Regions from separate parts of the Homo sapiens genome. Here region 2 is linked to region 1. Evidence: fine-mapped expression QTL. A gene starts in region 1. The other region holds a variant in brackets. All regions are shown on one strand. Distances are between the middles of the regions. Region 1 holds the start of ASXL1 (ASXL transcriptional regulator 1). Region 2 overlaps KIF3B (kinesin family member 3B).

Evidence for each region.
Region 2: its variant is fine-mapped to the expression of ASXL1 in whole blood (INTERVAL, PIP 0.98).

What each region holds. Positions count from the first base shown.
Region 1 is chr20:32,354,004-32,362,335 of GRCh38, forward strand. ASXL1 (ASXL transcriptional regulator 1) reads left to right here and starts at 4,328. Exons shown (of 13, transcript NM_015338.6): 1 at 4,328-4,829. The coding sequence starts at 4,773. RefSeq lists silencers at 1,560-1,629, 4,578-4,627, 4,868-5,027.
Region 2 is chr20:32,312,237-32,320,568 of GRCh38, forward strand. It overlaps KIF3B (kinesin family member 3B), which reads left to right. Exons shown (of 9, transcript NM_004798.4): 3 at 3,982-4,083; 4 at 4,291-4,413; 5 at 4,520-4,638. Among named protein-coding and RNA genes, the nearest start is that of KIF3B, 39 kb to the left of the region's middle. The variant G/A (reference allele first, on the strand shown) is at 3,575.

The DNA of each region.
Region 1 (8,332 bases):
TTGAGCCCAGGAGGTCAAGGCTACAATAAGCTGAGATTGCACCATTGCACTCCAGTGTAGGCAACAGAGAGACCCTGTCTCAAACAAACGAAAAAGACATTTTGGTAATTTAAACACGTTTTCCTCCCTACTGGGAGACTGAACAGCAGGATTTAAACGATGGTGAATGGAAGGTGAGCTATGAGTTAGGGCTGCCCATCACATGGGCAGATTCTGTGACTTAATGACAATAATAAGGTCATGAAGTCTCCTATACAGGGTCTTGCTCTGTCACCCAAGCTGGAGTGCAATGGCGCAACCATGGCTCACTGCAGCCTCAAACTCTTGGGCTCAAATGATCCTCCTGCCTCAGCCTCCTGAGTAGCTGGGACTATAGGCACATGCTGCCACGCCCAGCTGAAGTCATGCTCTCTATCCATGAGCATCTTTATAACTTGCATAGATATATTTGGGTGAAATCCTGTCTTGGTCTTTCCCGATTCTCCCTGAGCAGGTTCCAAACATTGTTTAGGGCTCAAAGGGAAATTAGTCTTCAGAGTTTCTCCAGTAAAGTAATTACGGAGATCGGGTCATTTATTCAACAGATTGGGTGCCTACCATGTGCCAAGACTGTGCCAGGCACTGGGGATATGATGATGAAACCAAAGATGCTAGCATGAACACAATCACTAAACCAAAGTCACACAAATAAATTAAATGTGGGAGGGACAAGGAGAGCTATACATGTACTGATCATCTGCTATGCTGGAAGTTTATTTAGCAAATGTAATCTTATTTAATCATCTGGACCCAAGGGAGGTAATCTGACCTCTCTGAATCTCAGCTTCATGTGAAAACGGGGATAATATTATTGAGAGAGAACATTTGTTACAGGGGCAAACCCTGTTCCAAGGTTTCTTTCACTCAAAGTATAAACAATGAGGCACTTTTTACACTTTAGACACTAAAACTTTTTGGAGGCAAAGAGGGCTGGTATTTAGTGAGTATCTGCTATGTGCTAGGCACTTTACAGAGATCTCATTTAATCTCAGTTCCATTCTTTGAATTTGCTATGTACCCTGCTGTCCAAATGACGGCACTGAGTCAGTGAGAGGTTTCATAACTTGCCCAAGGCCACAGAACTGGATGGAGAAAGACTGCAGAGATTCAAACCCAGGCCTGCTGACATGCAGAGCCAATGAGAATATATTATCTTGCAGTGCAGTTTATGGGATATATGTGTCCCTTTGGGAATTCCTGGGTGTCTGCTGGTGGCCTGTTAACTTGGTTCTTGAATATGCACTTTGCTTATAACTGTGCAGTTTGAAAAGTGACTCATCCCCAAACTAGGCAGGGTTGAGTGTCTGTCCTGTTTATCTTCCACATGCCACCTGCACTAACTTCTGAAGATAATCTATAATAAAAGCACTGTGATTAAAAAACAGAAAAACACACACCAAAAATGTATAGGTTTGTCTGTTGGTGCTTCTGACAAGAAAATAAACTCATGAATCTCATTAACTTTAAAAAAATCACATCTACTTAAGGTTTAATGACTAAAGCCAACTTTCTAACATATCTGTACCGTTCTCTGAACATACTGTTTTCACACTTAACTACGATGTTGTCACTTGTTTCTGTCTGATTCTGCAAGGGCAGAGACCTTGAAATATTCAAATCTGGATTCCCCCATGGTTTGACCCAGCTGAAGTCAGGCAGTGTTCGCTGAAAGAAATAAAGGTGTTTCCATAATGCCTGTATTAGCTTTCTTTTGGGGCTGTAAGAAGTTACCACAGATTTAGTGTCATAAAACAATATTCATTTCTGTTTCACGCTTCTTGTGGGCCCGACGTCTGGATTCCATGGCTCAGCTGATTCTCTGCTTCCAGTCTCACGAGGCTGAAATCAAGGTGTCTATATTCCTTTCTAGAGAGTTGGGGAGGGGGTATAATCTGTTCCCAAGTTCATTCAGCTTGTCAGAATTCAGCTCTGTGAGGTTGTAGGACTGAAGTCCCCATTTCCTTGCTGGCTCTTGGCAGGACTTCCTCTGAGCTTTTGGAGGCTGCCTGGATTCCCTGGCTTGTGGCCACTTTCAAAGCCAGTAACAGTGGGTTGAATTCCTCTCATACTTTGAATTTAATTCCTCTGCCTCATCTCTCCAAAACATCTCTTTTGCCTCCCTTTTGTGCTTTTAAGGGTTCATGTGATTACACTGGGCTCACCCATATAATACGGAATCATCTAATTTTAAGGGCTTTATTTCCATTGGCAAAATATCTTTTGCCAAAGAATGCTGGCTGGTAATCCCAGCACTTTGGGAGGCCGAGATGGGTGGATCACCTGAGGTCAGGAGTTCAAGACCAGCCTGGCCAACATGGAGAAACCCAGTCACTACTAAAGATACAAAAATTAGCTGGGCATGGTAGCGCATGCCTGTAATCTCAGCTACTTGGGAGGCTGAGGCAGGAGGATCGCATGAACCCAGGAGGCGGAGGTTGCAGTTAGCCAAGATCACGCCACTGCACTCCAGCCTGGGTAACACAGCGAGACTCTGTCTCAAAAAATAAATAAATAAATAAATAAAAAAGCAACATATTCACAGGTTCCAGGGACTAGGACTTGGACAGTTTTGGGCAAGCGGGGAAGACATTATTCTGTCTACCACAGTACCTGTATTAAACATGTAAATTTCAGTTATTCCCTGTAGGTCAGAGGGCAGTAAAGCTACTTCAGAAGACATCGGAAAGAAGCCAAATGACTTGCCAAAGAGTACTGTATCAGCCGTAGATTGAAAAAAAAGAAGTTAAAAATCCTTTGTAAAAAATCAAGGCAAACAGTTTTTTGAGGGACAGTAGTTCCTCCTTTCTCTCAGGGTAAAGCTAGAGAGATTTTTAAGAGGTGTCTTATTCTAACTTGCAGTCTTTTCCCTTTGTAGGATTTTGCTTACCGGACTCACAAGTTTTCTGTGACCAGTATTAGAAGCAGAAAACACTGAACCCCTTGGCGTTAGAGTTTGGGCTACACCATAATGGTCTCCTATCAATACTGGCTCTCGCTACGTGTTAACATTAGGGAGTGGAGAGTGTGTTTCCTCACCCAGGGAAACCGTTTAAATGTGGCCACTGATCCTGCCTTCATAGTTTTTAAGAGCTGGCATCAATCCAACTCCGGACGGACTCTAGAAATGTTTCTGGACAACGACTGAACCTATAGTTACAGAAAACCTATGTGCTGGGCGCTCTGAATTTCATTTCAGGTTCTAAAACTAAGGCTCAGAGAGGCTAAGTATATTGCCTATTGTTTCTCAGCTGGTAATAACAGCTACCATTTATTAAACATTTGCTCTATGCCAGGCGCCATATCATACGGACCTGATAATGTCAAGATCTCCCTTCACATCCTCTTCCAATCTGTCAAGAATTGTATGTTAATTTTAATTCCAATAATGCCATGAAATACAAGACAAATGCAGATCAGAAAACTGAGGCTCAGAGAGGTTGAGTGGACAGCCAGGGAGTGACTCAGCCAAGATTCCAGTCTAGGTCCGCTGGACTCCAGGGCCTGAATTCTCTCCAGGGTACTGCCTCTAAAAACGCCCTCAGGTGCATTCTGGTCAGTATGGCCCCAGAGTCCAAGTTCTTTACACGACCCGTCAACATATCACCAAGTTCCTAAGAACGCTCTAGGCTGCTGGTGCAGGCTCTGCAAATACACAGCGGCCTGAAAGCACAGGAAGAAATGAAGAACCGTCTAAGTCCATCAGCCGTGGAATAACCGTTTTACTGGTATGAGGGTCTTTTTGTCTCATTATTATGTGGCAGTGAGTCATTTAGAGGTGACCAAAAGGGAAAGTCCTGCCTCTCGTCCCCTACGAGAAGTGTAGGTAAGAACCGTTTAGGCGAGGAGAAGCACGAAGTGGGAACTGCGAGTCGAGCTCCCCATCCTCACTCCCCACCCGCACCCGCCAGGAGGTCCTGAAGCAAAAAGCACCGAAGGGGTTAAGGGTGGCCGGGGGAGCCCAGCCACCGCCCCTTCCCAGCATCGCCTCCCAGAATCCCGCAGGCCCCCAGCCAGTTCTCGCACCTCGCGAGACTCCACCCAGCCCCTTCCCCGAACAGCGACCCGTCCCCGTTCCTAGCTGAGGTCGGTGCTAGGCGGAGGACGCGAGAGGGAGAGCGGAAGGGGGCCGCCGGGCACGCCGGGAAGTGTGGTCCACGCGCTTCACGCGGCCATATTCTTCCGGAGCGGGGGAGGCCAGAGAGGCCGTTGGGACTACGACTCCCAGGCGCCCTTTCGGTTTGTTTTTGTTCAAAAAAAAAAAACCCCACACTCCCCCTCCTCACTCTTCACACACACTCACACACACCCACGGCAGACACGCACGCACCCGGGCGCCGAAGGGAAAGCCGCGTCTCGCCCTCCCGCCCCGCCGTCGGTCCTGTCTCAGTCCCTCAGCAGAGCGGGAAAGCGGAGGCCGGAGCCGTGACCTCTGACCCCGTGGTTATGCGGAGCCGCCGCATTCCTTAGCGATCGCGGGGCAGCCGCCGCTGCCGCCGTGGGCGACTGACGCAGCGCGGGCGCGTGGAGCCGCCGCCGCCCCTCCCCCACCGCCGCTCTCGCGCCAGCCGGTCCCCGCGTGCCCGCCCCTTCTCCCCGGCCGCACCCGAGACCTCGCGCGCCGCCGCTGCCACGCGCCCCCCCCACCGCCGCCGCCGCCCCAGCCCCGCGCCACCGCCCCAGCCCGCCCAGCCCGGAGGTCCCGCGTGGAGCTGCCGCCGCCGCCGGGGAGAAGGATGAAGGACAAACAGAAGAAGAAGAAGGAGCGCACGTGGGCCGAGGCCGCGCGCCTGGTGAGGCGGACAGCCGAGGGGGGCTCCGTGGGGCCCGGGGTGGGGGGGGCTCGCCGCGCACCCCCCCACTGGGGGGGGAGGGGCAAGGCCCTGCCCACCGCGGGAGGGGGCGGGGCCATCTTCCTTTAAGAACGGGACAGCCCCGCAAGGCGAGGGGTGGGGAGCGCTCCGCCGGGATGGGATGTGGCGCCTTTTTCCGCTCGCCCTCGCGCCCCCCCCGCCCCGCGCAGCTAAATTCCGGCGGAGGGGCGAGCTGGCAGGCCGGCTCCTCCCACTCTGGGCAGCGGGGTCCCGCGTCCCCTCCCCCACTATTTGGCAGCGTCTGGGGGTCTGGGGCAGCTTCGTTCATTCACCCGGGGGAGTTGGGTTTCCGGGAAGGGTCGGAAGCTCCTCCCTCGCTTCCTGGTGGGTAATGGGGTGGTGCCTTTGACTCCGGGGGTGGAAAAGCGACCCCACATTCAAGGACGCCAATGGCATGTTGAGCTTTCCCAATCTAAACCAGGTGCGTGGAGGGAAGCAAGTGCTTACTCCCAGCTTGAACCCTGAGCAGCGGTTCTCTAACTTTAGTGTCCTGTGGGCGACACCTGGGAGGCGGTTAGGAACGCTACTCCTAGGGCCCTTCGTAAGACCTGCTGAGCCTCAGGGTCTGGGATAGAGCCTGGGAATCTGCGCTTTCACCAGCTTCCCAGGTGATTCAAACGCAGTGGCTCACGGACCCCACTTTGAGAAACGCAGACTGGGCTGTTTGCCTTCAGAAGCTGGACTGGAAATTGGTATTTTGAGGAGAACTGAATCCACTTTGCAAAGAATGTATGTTGGACAAAGACAAAGTATCTCTGTTGGGAGACGTTGTTCACTGAGGATTTAGCAAGGGAGAGCGTAACTTGAGTGTTTGAAGCCGTCTCGTTCAACCGATGGGGGTTGTGAATTTTGTGTTCAGAGCGTCAGAGGACTTGCAGGTGAAATAGCTTCCTTTTGGATTACTCCCACAAAGCTCAGACACTTTGAGACATATTCGGGTAATTATCTGCTGATACCAGTAGTAACAGGTTATACTAAGATGTCAGTTCCTAAGATCTGTCACACAGCGAGGTTGTGGTGCGGATAGCATAAGTGTCTCTTGACACTGTAGTTTATATGTAATGGTTGTAATTCAGTTTTAATGATGAGTGAAGCTCAGACTTAATTTTCTCTCTTATTTTGAAGTGAGTTTTCTGCTTCAAAGGTGTTGTGCAAAAAAAAAAAAAATAGACTGTATTGGGGGGGTTGACACAAACCTGAAGTACACCTTTTTCTTTCTCGAAGTCTGTAAAAGTTACAGATTTATAAAAACTGAAGGAATTTGGGCTACAGAATTTTCATTGGTGCTTGCTATCCTCTTCCCTAGTCATTTGTTGCCCAGGGAACAAAAATAGCAATTGTTTGTATGCTGAAGTTTTGTGCTTCAGTTTATTTTGGCCTGGCATGTGAAGTTTGAAGATTTTGAGGTTCCGAAATATTTTTTTTCTGATTGAGTCAAAATTGGAAGCTTGGGCTAGTTTTCAGGATCTTGTAGAAATTTCAGGATTTCTCTAACGGTTCTGCACCTGGAAACAAATATAGGCCTGATGGGGAGTGGGAGAGAGCTCTCGTTCTCCTCCTCGACAATGAGTTTTGTGTGTTCATTGACATTCTCCTTGGCGTTCCTGTTATGCGGGTGTTTATGACCCTGGGCACCCAAGGAAATTTGCTTGCCAGAGTTTTACTTGTTAGAGGTAGGTGAAAGTACTTTTAAGTCTTGTGTTATTTATGTCTTGACAGAATTATGAAATCTGTTTGTCTCAAAGTTCTGTTGGCTCTTACTAGTTGACTTTAGGAATTTGGGGTCCACTGTTAAGTCTCTTTAGATTCTCGAATTTACCGTGGTCTGAACTTCAACATCGAGGTTGCTATTTCTGTTTTATCATTGACTCAACTTCAAGCCAGGTTATCAGGGTAAGTTATTCCTCTTTTTCTTCTAAGGCTCTTCATTAAAAATAGTAATATGAATAGGAATTACTTTGTTTGTTTGTTTTTCGTTTGTTTGCCACCACACCCGGCTAATTTTTTATTTTTAGTAAAGATGGGGTTTTTCCATGCTGGTCAGGCTGGTCTCGAACTCGTGACCTTAGGTTATCCGCCCACCTTGGCCTCCCAAAGTGCTGGGATTACAGGCGTGAGCCACCGCGCCCAGCCTATGAGTAGGAATTACTTTGTGGTGCTGTTATACATGTGAAAAAGGATTTGCGAGACTTTGGGAGTCTGAGGTGGAATAATCACTTGAGGCTAGGAATTCGAGATGAGCCTGGGCAACATAGACCCGGTCTCTACAACAACAGCAACAAAATGAGCTGGGCATGGTGGTACACACCTGTGGTCCTAGCTACTCAGGAGGCTGAGGATAGCTTAGGCCGAGGAGTTGGAGGCTGCAGTGCCCAATGATTGATTGTACCACTGCACTCCAGCCTGGGTGATAGAGGGAGACCCTGACTCTAAAAAAATAATGAGGCTGGGCGCTGTGGCTCACGCCTGTAATCCCAGCACTTTGGGACGCCGAGGTGGGTGGATCACAGGGTCAGGAGTTCTAGACCAGCTTGGCCAACAAGGTAAAACCCAGTCTCTACTAAAAATACAAAAATTAGCCGGGTGTGGTGGTGCACGCCTGTAATCCCAGCTACTGAGGGGGCTGAGACAGGAGAATCACTTGAACTTGGGAGGTGGAGGTTGCAGAGAGCCAAGGCCATGCCACTGTCCAGCCTGGGTGACAGAGCAAGACTCGTCTCAAAAAAAAAAAAAAAAGAAAAAAAGAAAAAGGACTTGTTGAGAATGTGATATGCAATTTGAGTATCTTGTGTGTGTTTTTTGTTTTAGAATTTTCCATTTCTTTGAATGGGACTGGATGGTAGGTGAGGGGGAACTTTTTAAGAGTCCCAGGCCGGGCACGGTGGCTCACGCCTGTAATCCCAGCTCTTTGGGAGGCCGAGGCAGACGGATCACCTGAGGCCAGAAGTTCGAGACCAGCCTGGCCAACATGGTGAAACCCCGTCTCTACTAAAAATACAAAAATTAGCCAGGCATGGTGATGGTGCATGCCTGTAACCTCAGCTACTCGGGAGGCTGAGGCAGGAGAATCACTTGAACTCGGGAGGTGGAGGTTGCAGTGAACCCAGATCACACCACTGCACTCCAGCGGCGACAGTGAGACTCTGTCTCAAAAACAAAACAAAAGAAAAAACCAGTCCTCTTAATGTTTAAAAAAAGTTGCTGTAACACTGTACTGGAGAATTTGTGAGAGCGTACACTGGACTGAGAGAAACTTGACTAGGAGGGAACGTAGGACAGTTGATTAGAACACCTGAACACTTCTCTTTGGGCAGGTGAATTTGGAGTGCTTGCAATGGCAATTGTATGCACTTCCATGGGAACGCTTTCAGATTGCTCCTGACCCCACTCAGATTGGTGACTAGAGTGTTACTGGGAATCCT
Region 2 (8,332 bases), 42 kb before region 1:
TAGGACTACAGGCACGCAACTTTGCCTGGCTAAATTTTTTAAATTTTTTGTAGAGACATGGTCTCACTATGTTGTTCAGGCTGGTCTCAAACTCCTGGGCTCGAATGATTCTCCCACCTCCCCCTCCCAAAGTGCTGGGATTACAGGCGTGAGCCACTGCACCCAGCTGATACCTATATCTTTAGTAGCTCCTTGCGTTTCCCTCCCCAACAGATAACCATCATCCTGAATTCGGTGTTTATTGTTTCCTTGCTTTTCCTTATAGTTTTACTTTCTACATGTATATTTCTAAAGAAAACATGGTTTCGTTTTCATATAATTTTTTGCTTTTATGTAAATGGAATCCCACTCATGCCATTTGCTTTTATTTTTGCAACATTACGTTCATGAGATTTATCCATGTTGATGCCTGAAGCTGTGGTTCACTCATTATTACTGTTCCAAGTATTCCATGGTATTCCATTCTCCTGGTGTATGGGTTGTTTCCAGTTTCTGCTGTGAATGCTCTTGTGCTTGGCTTCAGGAGAACATGGACGTGCAAGATTGTCTTGTTTGGCACTGTTAGGTCTTAGGGTATTTGCAGCTTCAACTTCTCTAGACAAGGACAAGTTGTTTTCTAAAGTGGTTGTGCAGATTGAAACACCTCGCAGCAGGGTATCAGTTCTGGATGCCCCGCATCCTTACCAGCACTTGTGATGATCAGACTAACATTTGCATATAGTATAGCCTCTCAGTGCAGTTTCAGTATGCAGTACCCTGATTACACAAGATAAGGAACACTTCCATCACCCCCAAAATGTCCTCATGCTACTTTCTTATAGTCAGCCTCCTCTCCCAACCCCTGTGTGCTAATATATTTCTTTACATCCATTCCATTTTCCACCCAATGGCTAGTTAGCATTCTGGAGTGCTGAGGCTCCCATTGTTTTGAGCCTTCTTTCTGGTGGCAATGCACTATGCCTGCAGTTGCCTGGACTCTGAGCTTCCACTGGGCTTTAATGGCAGAGGAGAGTGCAAAGGTAGACTTGGAAGGCTGAGGATGGCCACTGGCTAACCACAAGGCAGAATTCCTTGGAAATGTTCAGTTCTGTTTTATTGAATTCATGCAAACTTTGATTTCTATCCTAAAATGTCTCCATGTTTATAAATTTTAAAATTACAAGTTATCTTTGCCTCCCTCCTACCCCTACTGTATGAAGCTGTACTGTTTTTTTGTTTGTTTGTTTTAATCAGTGGCTTCATAGTAGCCCTTTCACAGAGCTGGGTGCTATTTTACTTCAGAGGCAGGGTTTTAAAACCTTGAAAGTCCCTTCTAGCACTTTTAAGACCTGATGTGAAAATGGAGTCGTATACAACACAATTAGGAGGTAACTTTGTTCCAGGGAGGGGTTCTGAGATGCCATTATGTCAAAGCACTTCATGCCTTCTCACTGCTGCACAGTAAGCGCGACTGGCTGTGCCCATATTTTGTTTTGTTTTGTTTTGTTTTGAGAAAGGGTCTCACTCTGTCACCCAGGTTGGAGTGCAGTGGCGTGATCTTGGCTCACTGCAGCCTTGACCTCCCAGGCTCAAGCAATCTTCCCACCTCAGCCTTCGAGTATCTGGGACTACAGGTGTGCACTGCCATGCCCAGCTAATTTTGTTGATTTTCTGTAAAGACAAGGTCTCACTATGTTGCCTAGGCTGGTCTTGAACTCCTAGACTCAAGCAATCCTTCCACCTTAGTCTCCCAAAGTGTCAGGATTACAGGCGTGAGCCACCGCACCCTTATGTCCGGCCTGGGTATGCCCATATTTGACTTGCATACTGTCTTTTAGGATCAGATCTGTTATTCAAGGCCAGGAGCACCTAGATTCTCTAAACAACCCCTCAGAGAAAGTTGAACTCTCAGAGGCTGAGTCTGCAAGATTCAGCATCATCTTAAGGTCACTGCATCTCTTAGACATTTTGACTATGGAGAATGACATTATTTCTGTCTTTCTCAATCCCTGGATGCTGTGAAATCATAAAAGAATGTTAGAGGCTGGGCGCGGTGGCTCACGCCTGTAATCCCAACACTTTGGGAGGCCCAGGCAGGTGGATCCCTTGAGGTCAGGAGTTCAAGGCCAGCCTGGCCAACATGGTGAAACCCTGTCTCTACTAAGAATACAAAAATTAGCTGGGTGTGGTGGCATGCACCTGTAGTTCCAGCTACTTGGGAGGCTGAGGCACGAGAATTGCTTGAACCTGGGAGGCAGAGGTTGCAGTGAGCCAAGATCATGCCACTGCACTCCAGCCTGGGCGACAAAGCGAGACTCCATCTAAAAAAAAAAAAAAGAATGTTAGAGTGGTTAGGTATTGTTAGGTATGTATGTGGAGTTTAGCAATCTAGTCCAGCCCCTTCATTCGAGAGGTGAGGAAACAGGCTCAGAGGACTCACTGAAAGATGGCAGCAGAGCTCCAGTGAGGTTTATAAGTTTCTTAAAAGTTGTGCAGTTTTGGGGTCCCATACTTTTTAGGTCAAAATCATTCTCATGGCTTCAGCCCCTATCAAAATGCTGAAGGCTCCCAATCTGTATATCTAGCCTAGCACTGTCTCCTGCCATCCAGGCCCATTGTATGTCTAGCCTAGCACTGTCTCCTGCCATCCAGGCCCAATAACCTTCTGCCCACTGGGATGCTCACAGCCACTCAGAGCCTGCTCTTGCCTTCCTTATCTCAGGGAAGCCAGACCCCTGGGAGTTATCCTTGCCAGCAGCCACTCCCTCTCACTTACAGCCAGGCCGTCCCAAAGCCTTTGGATCCTGCCTCATCAGGGTCTCTTGGACTCATCTACTCTGCCCTCCCCAACTAGGGAGGAGGCCTAGCCCAGGCCTAGACCCCTGCAGTGGCTTCCTGTCATGTCTCCCTCCATCCTGCCAGTCCTTTGCCATGCTTCCCATTGCAGGGGAGTAATGTTTCTAAAACACACATCTGATTGTGTAGCCTCATGCTCAAAAGAATATGTCAGTGGTTCCCCGAACTTCTCAGGATCAAGAAGTTTAGTCTCCTTGACAGGGATTTAGGTCAACTTCATCACTTCCCACCTTCCCCTCACAAAACAATCTTTTTTTCTTACCTAATTCCTATTTTTTAACTTCAGCTGTCTGTGTATCTGGCCCTGCAGACAGAAAGCTTTCTCTGACTCCCTCTAAAAGTCTGAATTCTCTGACTGGGCGCTGTGCTCATGCCTATAATCCCAGCAGTTTGAGAGGCCAAGGCAGAGGATCTCTTGAGGCCAGGAATTCAAGACCAGCCCAGACAACATAGCAAGATTTCACCTCTACAATCAATCAGTCAATCAACCAATCAGCCAAGTGTGGTGGTGTACACCTGTAGTCCCAGCTGCTTGGGAGGCTGAGGTGGGAGGATTGCTTGAACTAAGGAGGTCAAGGCTGCAGTGAGCTGTGATCGTGCCACCGCATTCCAGCTTGGGTGACAGAACTAGACCCTGTCTTTAAAAAATTTTAAAAAATCCCCACAGAGTCTGAATTCTATCCCATCAGTGTGCCTCTCCCATGAATTACTGTGTCCTTTCCTCATGATGGCATCTGGC[G/A]CCATATGGTTAAAGCCTGCTTGCTTGTCTGTTTTCCTCAGTGGACTCGGAGCTTTGTGATTCACACTCACATTGCATCCCCAGGACCTAACATAAAGGGTCTGCTTAATATGTTCTAAGTGGGGTTAATACTTTGTAGAAACAAGCAAAAAAAAAAAATTTGTTAAAGCTGAAATTCATGTATCTGAAGAAACTGTATCTTCAGTGTTACCAAGAAGCCTCTAGTGAAGCTGCCCCAGTCCCTCACCAGTGATGGATGGGCACAGCTGAGCACAGTGTATTTTTTCCCAGAGTTTGTCCCTTTTGGCTCAGTCCTGAGCTCTTTATCTTTCACAGGCTCCCCTGTGAGGAATTATGTTCTGAGAGAAACCGTTCATGAGATGGATTCTACTTTGTTTCTCACTCAGGCCATGGAGAGTAAGTTGCTTGTTGGAGGAAAAAATATAGTAGATCATACGAATGAACAGCAGAAAATCCTGGAGCAGAAACGACAGGAAATTGCAGAGCAGGTAACTTTTCATTCTTTTTCAGGGAGAATGGGTGAGGTAAGGTGTGTTTATGCTGCAGAGCAAACGTCTCATATTAGACTCTCTTCAAAGAGAATGAGAGCAAGGTGTGTCTGCCTCATCCTAGCTGGAGACTCTGATCCTAGCTTGGGGAACCCAGCATAGACACAGTCTCTAGGGCAAGCTGATGAATTTTGTCATGTTGCTCAGAAACGTCGAGAAAGAGAAATCCAGCAACAGATGGAAAGTCGAGATGAGGAGACCTTGGAACTTAAAGAGACATACAGCTCATTGCAGCAAGAGGTGGACATCAAGACCAAAAAACTCAAAAAGGTATGAAAGGAATGAGGCCAGATGGAGTTGCCTTGAGACTTGGGGAAAGGGAGAACTCTACCCTTTGGACAGACACCCTCCTCACCTGCCTCTCCCCTCATTCCAGCTCTTCTCCAAGCTTCAGGCAGTGAAGGCTGAGATCCATGACCTCCAAGAAGAACACATCAAGGAGCGCCAAGAGCTAGAGCAGACTCAGAATGAGCTCACCAGGGAGCTGAAACTCAAGTAAGTGCCAGGCCTTCCATAGTGCCCCCAAGCCACTTGCTGAGTCATTGATCTCGTTTGTTTAGTTAGAAACAGCCCTGGCTGGGCTTGGTGGCCTACGCCTGTAATCCCAGTGTTTTGGGAAGCGGAGGCGGGCAGATCACCTGATGTCAGGAGTTCGAGACCAGCCTGACCAACATGGTGAAACCCCGTCTCTACTAAGAAATACAAAAATTAGCTGGGCGTGGTGGTGCATGCCTGTAGTCCTAGCTACTTGGGAGGCTGAGATAGGAGAATCGCTTGAACCCGGGAAGTGGAGATTGCGGTGAGTTGATATCGTGCCACTGCACTCCAGCCTGGGCGACGGAGTGAGAAAAAAACACAAAAAAAGAAATAGCCCTGAGGACAGGTCCTTCTCCAGCTCATCTCCTGCCACCCCATGTTCTGTTCATTCCTGAAAAAGTCACTTTCCATCTCTGGATCCCATCTGTTAACTGAATGACTTCATCAGGTGATCTCCAAGTTCCCTTCTAACCCTACCTTCTCGAAGCTTTTAAAGATTCTGGTCTTACATCTGTCTGATGATAAGAGGGAATATTTTATTAACTTGACTTTTTATTGTGACAATTTTCTGAATGGTATAATAAATACCCAAGTACCCATCACCCAGATTCAAGGATTAACAAGCTTTTGCCATCTATCTTTCACAAAAATATTTTAAAGCAAATCTTAACCTCATGTTATCTCACTCCTACATACTTATATATATATATATATGATCACAGTGGTTTTTTTTTTTTTTGAGACAGAGTTTTGCTCTATCACCCAGGCTGGAGTGCAGTGGCACAATCACAGTTCACAGCAGCCTGTAACTTGTGGGCTCAAACAGTCCTCCCACCTTAGCCTCCCGGGTAGCTGGAACTACAGGTGTGTGCCACTATGCCCAGCTAATTTTTAAAAAAAATTTTATAGAGATAGAGTCTCTCTATGTTACCTAAGCTGATCTCAAACTCCTAGGCTCAAGCAATCCTCCTGTTTCAGCCTCCCAAAGTGCTGGGATTATAGGTGTGAGCCACCACACCCAGCCCACAATACTGTTTTTAAAAAAGCTTAATTGAGACATACTTCACATACCATACAATTCACATATTTAAAGTGTACAAATCAGTCCGGGCATGGTGGCTCATGCCTGTAATCCCAGCATTTGGGAGGCCGAGGCAGGTGGATCACCTGAGGCCAGGAGTTCAAGACCAGCCTGGCCAACATGGTGAAACCCCGTCTCTACTAAAAATCCAAAAATTAGCTGGGTGTGATGGCGTGTACCTGTAATCCCAGTTACTCAGGAGGCTGAGGCAGGAGAATCTCTTGAACCTGGGAGGCGGAGGTTGCAGTGAGCTGAGATCACACCACTTTACTCAAGCCTGGGTGACACAGCGAGATTCTTGTCTCAAAAAAAAAAAAATTAAAAAATGATAAAGTATACAAATCAGTGTTTTTTTAAAAGCATATATATGCATAGGGCTATAAAACCACCACTACAATCTAATTTTAGAACATTTTTATTACTCTCCTCTAAAAGAAACTCTACCAGTTAGTAGTCACTCCTCATTACCCCCTTTCCCAACCCGAAGTAATCACTAATCTGCTTCCTGTCTCTATGGCTTTGCCTATTCTGGCCATCTCATATAAATGGAATCACACACTGTGTGGCCTTTTTGGCCTGGTGTCTTTTGCTTAGCATGACGCTTTCAAGGATCGTCCATGCCGTAGCATGGATCAACAGATATCTGGTAGTCCCAACATCAATTGTTCTTTATTATGACTGAATAATATTGCACTGTATGAATAGGACACATATTTATTTATTTTTCAGTTTATATACATTCCGATTATTTCTAGTCTTTGGCTATTATGGATAATACTTCTATAAGCATTCATGTATAAGGTTTTGTATGGATGTGTGTTTTCATTTCTCTGGGATACATTCATAGGAGTGGAATTGCTGGGTCATATGGTAACTCAGTGTTTAACTTTTTGAGAGAATGCCAAACTGTTTGCCACAGTGGCTGCACTATTTTACATTTCTACCACCAATTTCTCCACATCTTCTTTTTTTTTTTTTTCTTTGAGACAGTCTCGTTCTGCCACCCAGGCTGGTGTGCAGAGGTGCAGTCTCAGCACACTGCAACCTCCACCTCCTGGGCTCAAGCGATCCTCCCACCTCAACCTCTGGAATAGCTGGGACTATAGCGGCATGCCACCCTACTTGGCTAATTTTTGTGTTTTTTGTAGAGATGGGGTTTCACCATGTTGCCTAGGCTGGTCTCAAACTCCTGGGCTCAAGCAGTCTGCCCGACTTAGCCTCCCAAAGTGCTAGGATTACAAGTGTGAGCCACCATGCCCGGCCTCTCCACATCCTTGTCGACACTTGTTATTTCCTGTCTCTTTTATCATAGACATCCTAACGAGTGTGAAATGGTACTTCATTATAGTTTTGATTTGCATATTTCTCTGATGACTAATGATGTTGAGCATCCTTTCACGGGCTTATTGGCCATTTGTATGTCTTTGGAGAAATATCTATACAAATCCTTTACCCCATTTTAAAATGGGGTTGTTTCATATATATATATATGTATATATTTCGTATATATATGAAATATATATATTTCATACACACACACACACACATATGTGTATATATATAGTTTTTTTTTGTTTTGTTTTTGTTTTTTTTTTTTTTTTTTTTGGAGTTGGAGTCTCGCTCTGTCATCCAGGCTGGAATGCAATGGCGTGAACTTGACTCATTGCAACCTCTGCCTCCTGGGTTCAAGCGATTCTCATGCCTCAGCCTCCCGAATAGCTGGGAATACAGGCACCCGCCACCATGCCCGGCTGATTTTTGTATTTTTAGTAGAGATGGGGTGTCACCATGTTGCCCAGGCTGGTCTTGAACTCCTAACCTCAGGTGATCCACCTGCCTTGGCATCCCAAAGTGCTTGGATTACAGGCATGAGCCACCATGTCCAGCCAATAATTAAGTTTTAAGAGTTTTTTTTGAGACAGAGTCTGGGTCTGTCACCCAGGCTGGAGTGCAATGGCATGATCTTAGCTCACTGCAGCCTCTGCCTCCTGGGTTCAAGTGATTGTCCTGCTTCAGCCTCCCGAGTAGCTGGGACTATAGGCATGTGCCACCATGCCCAGCTAATTTTTGTATTTTTAGTAGAGACGGGGTTTTACCATCTTGGCCAGGCTGGTCTGGAACTCCTGACCTCAGGTGATCCACCCGCCTCAGCCTCCCAAAATGCTAGGATTACAGGCGTGAGCCACTGTGCCCGGCTGAGTTTTAAGAGTTCTTTATATTAATATATTATGAATACCACTTTCTCATGAGATTCATGATTTGAAGATGCTTTCTGTTATTCTGAGTTGTTTTTAAACTTTCTTGATGGTATTACTTATAGCACAAAAGATTTCCGTTGTGATATAGCCCAATTTAATTGTATTTTCTTTTGTTTATTTTACTTTTGGTATTGTATCTAGATTTGCCTTTTCTGGACCTTTCATATAAGTTTATAAATGAAATAATGTTGGAATAATGTGGCCTTTTGTGACTGCTTTCTTCATATGTGTGTGTGTGTGTGTGTGCATGTGTGTGTTTTGTTAGTTTTTTTTTTTTTTTAGAGATAAGGCCTTCTTCTGTCAATCAGACTGG